Homo sapiens: one gene and its partner. The protein of the gene in region 1 purifies or fractionates together with the protein of each later gene. This does not show direct contact. Each region holds a gene or a part of one and is shown on either strand. Other genes may lie near its edges.

Region 1 (7,027 bases):
GGTGGAGGTGATTTCTGAAGGCTACTGATGACTCGGGCTCTCCGCAGAGCTCCTCTGGCTGCTGGACACTCTCTTTGCCACCCTCTTGTATGCGTTATTGTTCCTGTCTTTACTCTTAGAATTCTTGGTGATTCCTGCAGGTGCTATGTCCTCTGCCAGGGACCACCCCAGCCCAGTGAGGGTTACCAGCTTCTCTGGCTGACCTTGGTATTAAATTGATCCTGCCCTGTCCACATTTTGATCCCTCAGGTCATAGGTACCAGAATATTCACATGTCAGCTGAGACCTGGAAGATGTCTCTTTATTGTGCCTACTTATTTCCCCATCATTTTCACCTAATAAGAATGCCAGGTCAATGTGCCTTTGTTTTCTTAACTTGTCGGTGCAGGAGGCCTCAGCCCTGAGATTCCCTCTTCCTACCCAGTGTTGCAAAAACTCGAGTGTGCACGTGAATCACATGGGGATCTTGCTAAGAGGCAGATTCTGATCAGAAGGTCTGGGGTGAGTCTGAGATCCCGCATCTCTAACAGCCCCCAGTAGGCTGCAGCCTACTCCTGCACTTGGAGTAGGAAGGCCCTGGAGACCATGGCTCCAAGTGGCCACTACCCAGAGAGTTCCTGGCTGAACACGTTGTCTTTAGCTGTGCAGACACCTTTGGGATCATTGGCAGAAACTGGCAAAAGAGAGGCTAAAGTCCAGAAGAGCATCTCTAGCTTTTAATTTTGGGTCTTTCCCAGACAGCAGCTAGTGAAATGAGTGATAGAACAAGACAGATAGGTGGCATCAGAACCACCTAATACCACAGGGCTGCTCCAGCAAAGAGGCTGATGGTACCATGTTGGGCAAGGGAGCAGTGGCCAGGGGGCCTTCTTCAGTGAGGAAGAGGAGGTCTTGTGTGGCTGCATGTAGGGGACAGTGGCTTATTAAAAGGTCTTTTCCTTTCATTGGCGGGGGTGAACCAATCCTGGGTGGTCATAGTTGATATGGTTCTTGTAGTGGTTCCTAACTTGGGACAGTGGAGAGAGGATGTTTAGGGCAGCACCCACTCCTGCAGGTGCCTTTTGGCATTTGGATTAAGGCGGTGGGCAACTGTCTAACTATTTGCACCATTGACCCTAACCATGGACACCTGTCTCTTACCCGCCCTGGGGAACTGCAGTTTTGCCAAGCGTCTACATAAGACCGTGCGGCGGCTGGTGCCCGGCTGCGATGTCCGCTTCCTCCGCTCCGAGGATGGCAGTGGCAAAGGTGCAGCCATGGTGACAGCAGTGGCTTACCGGCTGGCCGATCAACACCGTGCCCGCCAGAAGACATTAGAGCATCTGCAGCTGAGCCATGACCAGCTGCTGGAGGTCAAGAGGAGGATGAAGGTAGAAATGGAGCGAGGTCTGAGCAAGGAGACTCATGCCAGTGCCCCCGTCAAGATGCTGCCCACCTACGTGTGTGCTACCCCGGACGGCACAGGTACACGGCAGGGTTGCCACCTGGCTCACATGGTGGGCCTTTGTCCTGGTGTTGATACCCTGGGAGGGATCCCTTAGCATTAGCATTGGACATTTGAACCAGAACACGTTTCTTCAGCCGTATTACTAGGGAGTTCTAGTCTTTGATAAACTCAAACAAGGTGCTCCTCTGCAAACAGTAGTAATGGTCAACACTTATTGAATGCTTACTGTGTGTCAAAGCACTTTATGTGTATGAGCTCATTTAATCTTTGTTAACTGTTAAAAAATATTAGCAGTTAATTTTATGTATTCACCTATGTTTGACAGAAAACTGAGGCGCAGAGAAGTTAAGACACCTGCCTAAATTCACACAACTAGAAAATGTCGGAGCTGGGATTCAAACCCAGGAATTCAGGTTCTAGAATCTGCTCTTGCAATCACCACATTGGTCTGAGTCAGGGTTGGCAAACTATGGCCCATGGGCTGAATCTGGCCCACCACCTGTTTTTGTACATAAGGTTTTATTACACAGCCATGCCCATGCGTCTGCACGTTGCTTATGGTTGTTTTGCACTGTCTTGGCAAAGTTGAGTGGTGGCAGCAAAGACTGCATGACCCACAGGGCCTAAAACGTTTGCTGTCTGGGCCTTTACAGAAAAAGATTTCTGACCCCTGCTGTAAGTCTTGTAACCTCAGAAATGGTGGTCTTATTCCAATTCAGAGAAGACAGTCGATGAGCAGGCCAGTGTAGCACAGTTGTTACAGGTTCCAGAGACAGACTGGGATTTGGTCCCTGCTCTACCCTGTCCTGGTCGTATGGCCCCGGGCAAGTGATTTAACTATCAGCCAGATCCCAATCATCCTTAAGAGAGGAATGCAGTGTCTCCCTCACAGGGCTGCCTAAGGGTTGAACGAGGACTGTGTGTGAAGCATGTGGCACACTGTAATTGTCCAACAAGGGAGGGTTTTCTCAGTTTAAAAGATTTCCCTTCAGCTTCCTTCAGGGAGCTGGACTCTTCTGTTCCTTCTGTATTCTAGAATGTAATATAAAGTGGCATTTGATGGAACAGGAATGGTGTATTTGGATCGTTTTAAGTGTACTGTCTCCACATTCCCCATGTTCTGCCCCAACTTATCACTTCCCTGGGCTTATTTTCCAGAGAAAGGGGACTTCTTGGCCTTGGACCTTGGAGGAACAAATTTCCGGGTCCTGCTGGTCCGTGTTCGGAATGGGAAGTGGGGTGGAGTGGAGATGCACAACAAGATCTACGCCATCCCGCAGGAGGTCATGCACGGCACCGGGGACGAGGTGAGCAGGGCGGCGCCTTCAGGAGGGGGCCCCTGGTGGACGTCACCTCTTGCCTTCGAGGACAGTGCTTTCTCTGCTCATCTGTGACCCTGGGGAGGGCTAGCTGGACCCAGGGCTGCAGCCTGGTCTTGACTCAGGTTTGTGCCTGAGCCTGCATTTCTTCTGGGTGGAAAGAAACATTGATGTTGTGCGCAGGCCCTACTGGGGGCAGCCTGCCCTGCCCAGGGCCCCTCCCTCAGTGTCCTAACTTCTCCCTGCAGCTCTTTGACCACATTGTCCAGTGCATCGCGGACTTCCTCGAGTACATGGGCATGAAGGGCGTGTCCCTGCCTCTGGGTTTTACCTTCTCCTTCCCCTGCCAGCAGAACAGCCTGGACGAGGTAACAGCACCTTCCTGGAGGGCTCTCCTGTGGGCTTTATTGACTCTAAACAAAACCAGCCAGGTATGGAGCAGGGGAGAAAGTTGAGCTAAGACTAAGGAAAGGAGGGCGTGAGTTACCAGTAGTGGGGAGGGGCTCCTTGATGGGAATGAGTAAGTTGAGGCTGGTGGAGGTTAAGTAGGTTAGCTCAGCTGTGACAGCCTTTGGGACAACGATGATGATGCTACTCAATGTTAACAACTGCCGGGTGTGGTGACTCATACCTGTAATCTCAGCACTTTGGGAGGCTGAGGCAGGAGGATTACTTGAGGCCAGGATTTCAAGACTAGCCTAGGCAACATAGGAAGACCCCATCTCTATTGAACTTATATATATATATATAGCATTTTTAAGCACTTACTGTGTGCCAGGTACTATGTTAGGTTTCTTACCTGCATTATCTCGTTTAACCCTCACAGCAACCATATAAGAGATATGTTTGAATACCCATTCTACAGAAAGGAAGATAAGCCCCACAGAGGTGCTGGGTGTCTTGCTCCAGGTCATAATAGCTTGGGACTGGCCAAGCCAAGATTTGGATTCTGGGTTCCTGATGCCTGAGCCTGTGCTGTCAGTTATGCTGTGGGGCTCCTGAGGCCCTTGTTATGGGCTCAGGGCATTTTCATGCCATATCCTGTTGTTTGGATGCCCTGGCTCTTCTCTGGTCTCATCTTGCTTCTCACTCCTCTTCAGGTTACCTTGGGTGAATGAAGTAGGTGCATGAGGATCTGGCACTCCCAGATGTTCTGGACATGAGTGCCCCGAGAAGTGGAGGAGAACTGAGTAGGCAGTGCTGGATCTGCTGATGACTGGTAGCCCTAAGCATTAGGTATCTGGAGACTGTTTTTAAGCAGTTGTGTCTCTGTCTCAGTCATGTAGGAGTGCACGTGCACGCTGCCGGTGTGTGGTATGTTGCACATGCCACTGCTAGGTATAAAAGGCATGGCTCCTACCTTTAGATGCTTACAAACAAGCTGGGCTGATGAAGCAAGCTCAGAAAAGGAAGAGCTGCTGTTTGGAATGTGGCCCTCGTGGGATGGATACTGAAGCCCCCAGGACAGGTAGTGAGACAGATGTTAATCCGAGTGCATACCTGGGGGATGTCAGGAGGACTTGGAACAAGTCAGAAGAATGAGTTGATGGGAAAGAAAGGTGAGCAGGCTGCCCATTGTGGAGAGGGTCATGTAGGTGGGAGCAAGTGACAGAAAGAGCTGGGCCAGCGCAGAAGAGCCTACCCTAGTGACAAGGAAAGAGCAGCATTTCCCACAGGGTCCCTGCAACAGTGGCCCTCACCTTGGCTTCACTGAGTTTTGTAGATGCCTCCTTCTCCTCCTTATCTGAGAGAATTCCCCATGTGCACTAGTATAATTAAGGTTTTAGGAAGTTCTGCAATAAAAACTCAGCTTAGTCTGGCATTTCTCAACACCTATTAACATTCATGTAGTGTTAACCAGACTAGCGTTGCTTTATGCCTCATGTGGACAAATTCTTATGTACTATTTAATGGACCATTACTTATTATAACAAAGATATTAGAAACAAACTTGCTGAATAGTGAGATAGTAGTTAAATAAATTATGACCCACTTATTAGCTAGTATCAGCCACTAGTTATTTGTAATAAATTTTAATCACATGAAAAATTACTGGTGATATGACTAAAAAGTTTTAAAACTACTTTTCTTTAGAAATGGTAATCTCTTTATAAAAAAACATAAAATACAATTAATGGGATGATAAAAGCATAACCCTCCAGTGTATATCCTTCTTCTAGACTTCCTACCAAAATATTTTCAAGTAGATACTATCTTAACTTTTCATGCCAACAGGTTATATATTTATTTATATATTTGCCAGGGAAACCAGAATGTGTGTTAACTGTTTCTGTCTGAATTGTGAGATTCCAGGCCATTGGATTAGGTTTTATTCTGTGTTCCAGGTTTCTCTGAGGAGCACGTGTTAGGTCTAGAGCCGTAAAAATTAAGAGCAAATAAAGCAGAAGTCATTTCTTCCTGTGGGCTCTGGCAAGACCCTCCTGTGATGGGGAAATCCCACCAGTGCAGAGGCCCCTGGGGTTAGAGACCCCAGGGCTCTGTGGCCCCCAGCTGTGTTTCCCAGCTGTTGGGCCTCCACTTGCCTCATCAGTAAGGATCACCTGAAATTATGTTATTTGAACATCCCGTAAACACAAACTTGCGTCAAACATGTGAAGCTAACTTGTAGAGAGCTGGGTGGAGATCAGCACACACTGGTCAGCCAGCTCTCTGAGGGTATGTGCTTTGTTTTTCTGAATCTCCTGGGGTCTGAACACAGTGTGACACCTCCAGGTTGATGTGAATGAAATGCCAAGCTGATGGGCATGAATCCCTGAGCAAGGCCTGGAGAAATCATGCAAGTGGGTGGGTTATGAGCACACAGCTCATTTATGGAAGCCGAGCTCTTGGGTAAGGAGTCTGAAGCCCTGAGGCTTGTTTCCTGGTGGGCTGTGGCAGCAGAGAGGGCATCAGGGAATAAAACCCAAAGCATTTCTCCCAGGTTCAAAGCCGTCAAGCATCTGCTCCCAGAGGACCACATTGAAGGCAAGGGGCCACTGAGGATGCTGAGGAGGAGCCTGGAGTTGTTTTCCTCACTGAAAGACATGGGGTGGTGGTGAAGCCTAGCTGTCACCCAGCTGTGGGCAAAGCACTTGTTCGCCAGATGCTGGAGTTTGAAAATTAGGAGACATACACTGACCCTTCTGATGTAAAGGATAGGGACAGAGCAAACTGCTTTGCCCAGTGAGCGAACCAAGCACATAGGAAGAAGTTGCACAGCAGGGTCAGCTGCGTGGTGCTTATGAGCCCATTCACTGGGGTCGGAGGGCCTCGGAGTGCATCCTGCTTCTCTCTTCCAAGCTGTAGGCCTTGAGCAAGTCACTCCAGAGCCTCAGTTTCTTATAAAGTGGCCATAAACATGATAGATGTTCCACAAGGGTGCTGTGAGGGTTAAATAATGTAATGCATGATCTATGCTTAGCCCAGTACCTGCTACACAGTAGGTGCTCAATAAATCCAAGTAAGTACCTTAGGAACAGTTTAATTTGCGGGTGAGATGATTGGTGACTCTGGGGGATCCGTCTGACCTGTGAGGTTGAGAGCTAGAAGCACAGCTGGACCCCCAGAACTGACCTGGGAGCTCTTCCCTGATGTCCTTTCCATGCTTGTGTGTGATTTTTAGAGCATCCTCCTCAAGTGGACAAAAGGCTTCAAGGCATCTGGCTGCGAGGGCGAGGACGTGGTGACCCTGCTGAAGGAAGCGATCCACCGGCGAGAGGTAGGAGACACATGGCACGAGGTCTGATGTGTCAGCTCCTCAATGATTGGCCTGGTCTGTGTGTTCAGAAAGTGAAGGCAACAGTAAGTGTGGCTGCATGGGTTGGGAGGAAGATTAACTCAAGCGTCGTTCAGCAGTTTAGTGTGCACTGTGTGTCAAGCAATGCTCTCAGCACTGGCGGTTCAGGAGTGACCACAACAAAGCTTTGTTCTATAAAGTCCATGACCTAGTGGCAGGTGCTGTTAAGAGCTGTGAAACACACACACACACACACACACACACACACACACACACACAGTAAAGGAATAAAAGAATGGCCACTCCATAAGCAAAACAGCCATGAGGGCTGCTGGTTGCACATTTTTATGGTTATTTCTTGATTATATGCTAAACAAGGGGTGTATTATTCATGCCTTCCCTTTTTAGACCATATAGAGTTTAAAAAAAAAAAAGAAAGAAAAGGAGTGAAGTGGGGTGAGGAGAGCAGATGGAGCAAGTGTGCTGGAAAGGGGCACTGTTAAATAGCACAACTTGGGAGGGTCT
Region 2 (7,027 bases), on another chromosome or scaffold:
TGGTTGTGCTTCTGCAGTTTTGTTTTACTTTTTAAAATCATCAATCACCTGTTATTTTAAGAATGAATTTCTGTTTGGGAAATGTTGCTCAGTGTAAAGTGGCATTATGGTTTTGTGGGTCTCTGTGACAAGTCCATGTCCCTCCATCCAGGTTCCCTGGTCTCCCTCCTGAGTAGTCTGTGCAGCACCAGCACAGATGGCAGTGGTGCCTCTCTCTGCTTGTTTCACTTTGTGTGTTCATTACTGGACATAATGAGAACTTTTCCCATTTTTTTAATGATTGCTGATATTTCTTTCTGTAGATGGAACAGTGTTGCCTCAGCTCCAAGGTGATGGGCATTTAGGGTGATTCCAGCCGTTTGCTGTCACAAACTAGTGCAGTGTACAAACCTCTTCCCGCAGGTGTGTGAGGATGAATTCCTAAAAGAATTGCTGAGACAAAGTATATGTGCCTTTGTCATCCTGAGGGCAGTTGTCATCCTGTGGAGGTTTACCATTTGCTCTCCCACCAGCAATGTATAAGCATACCTGCTTCCCAACACTTCCGCCAACACATATTATTTGATTAATTTTCTTGGCTGATAATGGTATCTCATTGTAGTTTTAATTTGTATTTCTCATTGTGAGAGAAATGAAGCATCTTTTCATGTTTTGAGAGCCATCTGTGCATCTTTTCCCATTGTTTCTGTTAAGTCATTGATTTGCAGTACTGTAATTTGTGATGAGTTGTAAACATGAGCTCTTCTGGCCTCTTAACCATCCTTATCCAGCCTGTCTTCACGTTCCTCCTTGCCTAAAAACAAGCTCACTCAAACAGATCATTCCTGTGGCCCTCTCCCTTTTGAAATAAATCAGATGGGCAAATTTGCTTTTGTTAGGGGCCTGAGACCCAAATGTTTAAAAGTAGCTTAGCTGATGAGTGAAAAGGAGGCCCAGTTGGGGGTTGCACAGAAAATGAGGGGCGTGGGTAATAGAGGAGGCTGGGCAGTAACCTGGCAGAAGGCGCCAGAGGCCAAGGAAGGTGCGCTGGTGTCCTGCAGTGAGAAGGATGTGTGCACTATCAACTGGGTAAACACACTGCTATAGCTGCTCCAGCGACAGCAGGCACTCTCAGAAGGGAACTGAGAAAAGGGGAATGCCAGTTTCTGCCAAGGATATATGGAAAAGTTTTTTTTCCCCGTATGTTCTTTGGCAACCTTGTTAAAATCATTTAAAATGGTGAATTTGATAACAAAGCCAGCCACTAAAAGACTTGGATGTAGCAAAACAAATTGTCAAAAAGTATTTATCATTTCTAAGAAATAAAATAAACTGGGATTTAGGCTTGGATAGAAATCCAGAGGTTTGTTTTGGCATAATTAATTACAACATCTGAAGAAGGGAGGATTTTTACAAGAATTTTTTTTTTTGTAGTGAGATTGCTTTATATTCCTTTTCATGACTGGAGAGTCTGTCATTTGGCAACCCGCAAAGAACTTCAGGAACAGAGGGCCTAAGTTTTCTTGACACATTTGGATTTTTGCATGATGAACATTTGCACTTTTATTAGTAATTGTCGAGTCGTGTGTGGTCTGATCCTATGGAGAGGAGAGTGTAGGTGTTCTCTGGAGCTAGTACTGCCCCCGGCTCACACGTGCCACACTGCCTGCTGCTTTCAGAAAGAGCAGGACGGCTGGTCCTGTCCCATCTAGTGAGGTCCTGTCCCATCTAGTAAGGTTCTGTCCTGCAGAGCTCCTAAGAGGGGATTGCTGGCCTTTGATTACACTGGCTTCCAGAATCTGACCATGGAACCATTATTTGAAGCTGTCAGCTTCATTTTGTTGTTGATCAGGCCAGTCTTTTAGGTCTTTGTTGGTTGATAGATTTCTCTCAGGTCTATAGCAGCAACAAATAAAGCTCTTTAAAATTATTTTCTTGACCATTCTGCCTATGGATTGGTTCTGACCTTTGAAATGTTTGCTGTCCTTTAGATCGTGACAGAAGGAGCCTCTTCTGGGAGCTGTGAAGACCCCACAGATCTCACTGGTTTTCTTGCTTTTATTGGAAGAGTTAGCATTTGTTGAAGTTTATATTTATGTAAAATAACAATAAGTAGATTTTAAAATTTTTCTTTAAATTCTGTGATCTAATAAGAAGAGAGACTCTTTCTCTGTCATTGGGAGGCTTGATGAGGATCGGACATACCTGCTGAGAGTATCCTGTAATGTTTTCATAAGATTGGAAATGGTGAAATGAGAGCAGAAATGTAGGCAGAGGATGCCAACGCTGTTTCCTATTTCCTAAGTAAAACTGAGCAGGGCAGAATCTCCCCAGCCCTGCCAGAACTCCCTTCCTCCTTGGGTCCGCTGTCACTGTCATGCTGGCCTTGACATCTGCTACAAGTGCACACACATGGGGAACCACACAGGGAAGTGAACACATGTCCTGACGTGTGTGTGTGCCTGGTGTGGCTGCTTCCTTGATCCAGGCTTTGTTTTGTTACGAGGCTCTGCCCTCCTACCTTCAGGCCTTGCTCCTCATCATGGGCATGCAAGGATGGAATCGTTACCCCAGAGTACACTTTTTGACTTGGATTACTTGTAGTTTAGTACTGGAGTTCAGAACTTTAATTTCCCATCAGAAACCTGCCTCCCGGACCCAGGACACTGACCTTGATTGGGCACGATTTTCCAGATAAGACCTTACCTCCTCCCAACAGGGTTTGCCTTCCCTTCAGAATACAGGAAAGTACACGTGGTTCCAAGAGGACCATGCTCTTACTAAGATAAAAGGGAGGAGGGTGACTAGGTACTTTCCTCTGCTGCCATCCCTTGAAGGAAGGGGGCTTCCTTCAATGCCTCATCAGTTCCAGGGAGTATGCTTGACCCAGCAACACAGAGGAAGAAGTGACCTCATAGCAATGAGGGGCAAGCATGTGGATATTGCTGGGTATTTCTTCCTCAAAGTCTACCTGGGGACAGGTGATGAAGACGCTTACTTCTCTGCAATACACCGTGATCAGGCTTTGGTCTTCATGACACATTTTAGCCTTGCCTATGTGTGTTGAACAGAGCTGGTCATCCTCAGAAATAAAAGAAGAGAGCAATAAGTACAGGAAGGCTTTCAGTCCCAGAATAGTGTTAGGACTAAATGTCAGAGAACAGGGGGACTGTAGGAGTTTGGGGACCTTAGCATGGATACCCTCTCAATCTGCTCCCCTGTGGTATAAACAGTAAAGCCCATTGTACTAAAAGGCCTTGAGTGCTTGTCTCTGGGGCAGGTGGAGCCAGTGATGGGTGCCCCGAGAGGAGGATGCTGGAGAGGGGACAGTGTCTAAGGCAGTTGGAGAAAAAGGACAATGGCTTATGCAGTCAGGCCTAGAAGATGCAAGGGATGTCACAGCATAGTGTCCACAGGCATCCCTAGATGTCTTTCATTTTGTTTCAGGAAGAATATTGACAAAGGTAGTGATGGGAGGGTTATTTCAAGGATGCTATTTTCATGTGTCCAAGTAAACTTAAGATTCCTAAGAACTTTGACCTCTAATGCTTTTAAAGACCGTGTACCTCATGCCCATATGCACATTCAGTTAGAAAATAAATGTAGATTCTTTGGTGAATTCGAAGATGTGCTCATGGAGTGGCACAGCGTGATCTCAGTGTACACATGAAGCATGCTGATGAGAGCTTCTTGGATCTTGTTTCTTCAGGTGGACTTGCATTAAAGTGCTGTTGAATCTCTGCACTGGGAGTGGGAGCAGCCATGCGATGGGTGCCTTAATCCGAGTGCCATCCTGGCTCTCTCCAGGCTGCTTCATTTGCTGTGAGGGGTAGGGGGAGGAGGAGTTTCCAGGCAATGGCCTTATCTGTTCTGGTGGTTGACCAAGGGTCGGGGGTCCCAAAGGTGGAGTTCCAGGATGAGAGTGCACCCTTGGGGATGGTACTTAGAAAGAGTGGGGACTAGGCCTCAGCCAGGGAATGGTGGGCCAGGGTGGAGCTCCTTTGTATCAAGGAGTTAGGGCCAAGGGCCATGCAGGTGGGCCTGCAGAAGGTGGGTGGTGATATGGCCTTTCTGGTGATAACAGACTCGTGGCACTGTTTTCCTGGGGCTGTTGGGGTTGCATGGAGCAGATTCTTACTCAGGCTTACTGTCTTAAGGAGGGAAGAATGCTTTTTTATGAATACGCATAGGTCTGTGGGGCTGTGGAGCCTGGGGAATCCGAGGCTGGCGTGGGAGTCTGGGGCCCTCTAGCGGTGGTGGTGCATCCTCAGCTCAGTGCCACTCACTGTCCCTATTTCTCTCTGTCCATTTCTCTCCTCACTGCAGTGCTTCCTCTCCTTCCTAGATTTTTTTCTCTAAGTTTGACTATTCACCACCCCAGAGACTCTGTTCTATCCCATGACCTCTTGCTGTACTTTCTTTCAAATCTAAATTTTCTTGATTATTTTTCTTAATTTACAGTTTCAAGATTAGATCTGTTGGGAGCATTCTGTGCTCTACCTCAGCCCCTGGTTGAGCTATGGATTGGTGTCCCCCATGGTGACGTGGTCTGGACTCCCTTTTGTGTGAAGAGCTGTGGCAGGGCAGTGAGGTTTTGTGGAACTCAGGGAGCATCTGGCACTATGTATGAGGTTGTGAGGTGGGAGAGAGCTCTTAAATCTACCAGCCTTGTTGATCTTGGGAACTAGGAGAGAGTGCTAGGGAAGCCAGTGCCAGCAGGCCTGGAGCCTCATATTTCTTTGGCATTTGTATGATACCTTCTAGTACTTCGTTTTTTGACTTATATATGAACTAACTCAATTTAGATGCTTAGAAAATAAACGGCCACTGGACCTGCAAGAGATTAGTAGTGGTGTTCCATAGCCTTAGACATTTCTTACACTTTTATCCACAGATAAGAAAAAAATAGTGATATTTGATTTGTTTTGCCAAGGCTTAGAAGGATCTAATATGTGTTACTCGTTGAGCAGCGGGAAGCAGCAGACATTTCTAGGGTTTCTCCCTGTCACCATTCAGGAGACAGTGCACACAATCCCCTTGGCTCTTACCTGAACACTGACCACAGGTCTGTCATTGCAGGCTGGGAGTCCTCCGTCAGCATCAGCTCCGGCTCCGGTGTCCTCCTTCTCTCGCACTTCTATCACGCCATCCAGCCAGGACATCTGCAGGTAACACTCTGCTTCAGATGCTGCCATGATCAGTGTGCAGCCAGAAATAAGCATTAGTGTCTGTAGGTTCTTGAATTTCCATTTGCTTAATCAATCTGCCTTTGGTCTAAACAGTTGGCGAGTTTTATGTGTGGTTTGCTCACCAAGTTACCCATGCTAGTCTCATTTCTTCACTATGATGTCTATTCTCTTTTAAAATTGTTTTTACTTTCTGTGCTTTTATCCCACTGTTCTGCATGCAGTTCCAGTGCAGTGTTTTCTGAGTGTTGTCACCACAGTTCCGTGCAGTCTGCTGTTGTCTCGAAAGCTCCTCACTGCCAGAGTTCTCTGACACAAGGGCTCACTGTGACAGTTATCTGTAAGGACACATTACAGGCGTCAAAGAGAAATTCCTTTGGTTCAGAATGGGCCCAGGCCTTGAAGCCTGCTAAGAATACCAAAGCCAGAAGAACACTAAAGTTCTCAAGGTCCCTCAATGATGTGGGTGAGAAGGCGCAGGATACTTCAGAAAGTTTTGCCTATGTGGAAAGAACTTGTTCTGAAGGGAAATTAATACTCCCTCAAGATACGTGTCTCAGAACTAACAGGTTTCATCATAAAGAAAAAAGAACCCTGAACCACAAACCTCTTGGCAATTCCAAACATTCTTGTGTTTCATGCCTTTCTGCCGGTCGCTCAACTGCCTCAGAGGTGGAAGCTGGCAAGGGGGGCAGGCCCGGCCTGCTGCTGGAAGAGAAGGCGGATGGTGAGGCCACGTCCCGAAGCCGGCAACTGCTCCAGTACCTGTTCTCACTCTCGCACGGCTTGAGCGCCAGCAGCCTGCACAGGTTCCATGAGCTGGAGAGCTGCGCTGCTCGCCTGCACACTGCCAAGTCCTCCAGCGGGCTGGCAGGGAGTATGGGCTTCTGCTCTGACGAGATGGGAGACGACGATGTCTTTGAGGACAGCACATCTGCAAAACTGAAGAGTAGGGTTCTGCGGGCGCCCCTCTGCTCCACGGAAAAGGACAGCGACCTGGATTGTCCTTCTCCCTTCTCTGAAAAATTACCCCCCATATCTCCCGTGTCCACGTCAGGGGATGTCTGCAGGTTGGTTTGCCAGGAAGTGCCATTCTAGCCATCTCTGCTCGCATCAGGAACCTCCTCTTGCTTTAGTATGTGAAGTTTCAGGAAAATGAAGTAATAGGAAGTTGTAACCAGTTGTGGGTTGATGGTTTTCTCCAGAAGAATGGAGTATCAATATCGTTTGAAAAACTTAATTTTTATGATGTGAGTCCCAAGATAGTTTTACAAATGATAAAAGAGGAAGAAGCTGGCTGGGCGCAGTGGCTCACGCCTGTAATCCCAGCACTTTGGGAGGCTGAGGCGGGTGGATCACCTGAGGTCAGGAGTTTGAGACCAGCTTGGCCAACGTGGCGAAACCCCGTCTCTACTAAAAATACAAAAATTAGCCGGGCGTGGTGGCGGGCGCCTGTAATCCCAGCTACTCAGGAGGCTGAGGCAGGAGAATTGCTTGAACCCGGGAGGCGGAGGTTGCAGTGAGCCAAGATTGCGCCATTGCACTCCAGCCTGGGCAACAAGAGTGAAACTCTGTCTAAAAAAAAACAAAACAAAACAAAAAAAAAAAGAGGAAGAAGCTACACATATTAAAGGCCAAGCTGACTCTTCTAAACTAAAAATAAGTAGACTTTGCATAAAGAAACTGGAAGAAAGAAACTAGTATCTTCAGTTTTCCAGCCTGATGGTCCAGATTTTAAGCATTGTTGCATCTCCCAGCCTCTTTTTTAACCCTTGCTCCCTACCTACCCCCAAAAGGTGTGTGGGGACTGGCTGTTCTCCAGTAGCTCCTTCCTTCCTTCTTTTTAACTGAGGTGTAGCCAC

Evidence for each region. Proteins that work in one complex are often made in the same cells at the same time.
Region 2: the proteins of HK2 (region 1) and MARCHF8 purify together in Homo sapiens (affinity purification with western blotting; 2 studies listed by BioGRID). This does not show direct contact.

Annotation. Positions count from the first base shown.
Region 1 is NC_000002.12:74,879,106-74,886,132, forward strand, and holds part of HK2 (hexokinase-2), read left to right. Parts: intron 1-1,159; coding exon 1,160-1,464; intron 1,465-2,605; coding exon 2,606-2,754; intron 2,755-3,014; coding exon 3,015-3,134; coding exon of another isoform or gene 3,135-3,197; intron 3,198-6,388; coding exon 6,389-6,484; intron 6,485-7,027. UniProt on the Homo sapiens protein: Catalyzes the phosphorylation of hexose, such as D-glucose and D-fructose, to hexose 6-phosphate (D-glucose 6-phosphate and D-fructose 6-phosphate, respectively).
Region 2 is NC_000010.11:45,462,359-45,469,385, reverse strand, and holds part of MARCHF8 (E3 ubiquitin-protein ligase MARCHF8), read left to right. Parts: intron 1-5,027; exon of another isoform or gene 5,028-5,058; coding exon 5,059-5,147; intron 5,148-5,389; coding exon 5,390-6,235; intron 6,236-7,027. UniProt on the Homo sapiens protein: E3 ubiquitin-protein ligase that plays several important roles in innate immunity and adaptive immunity.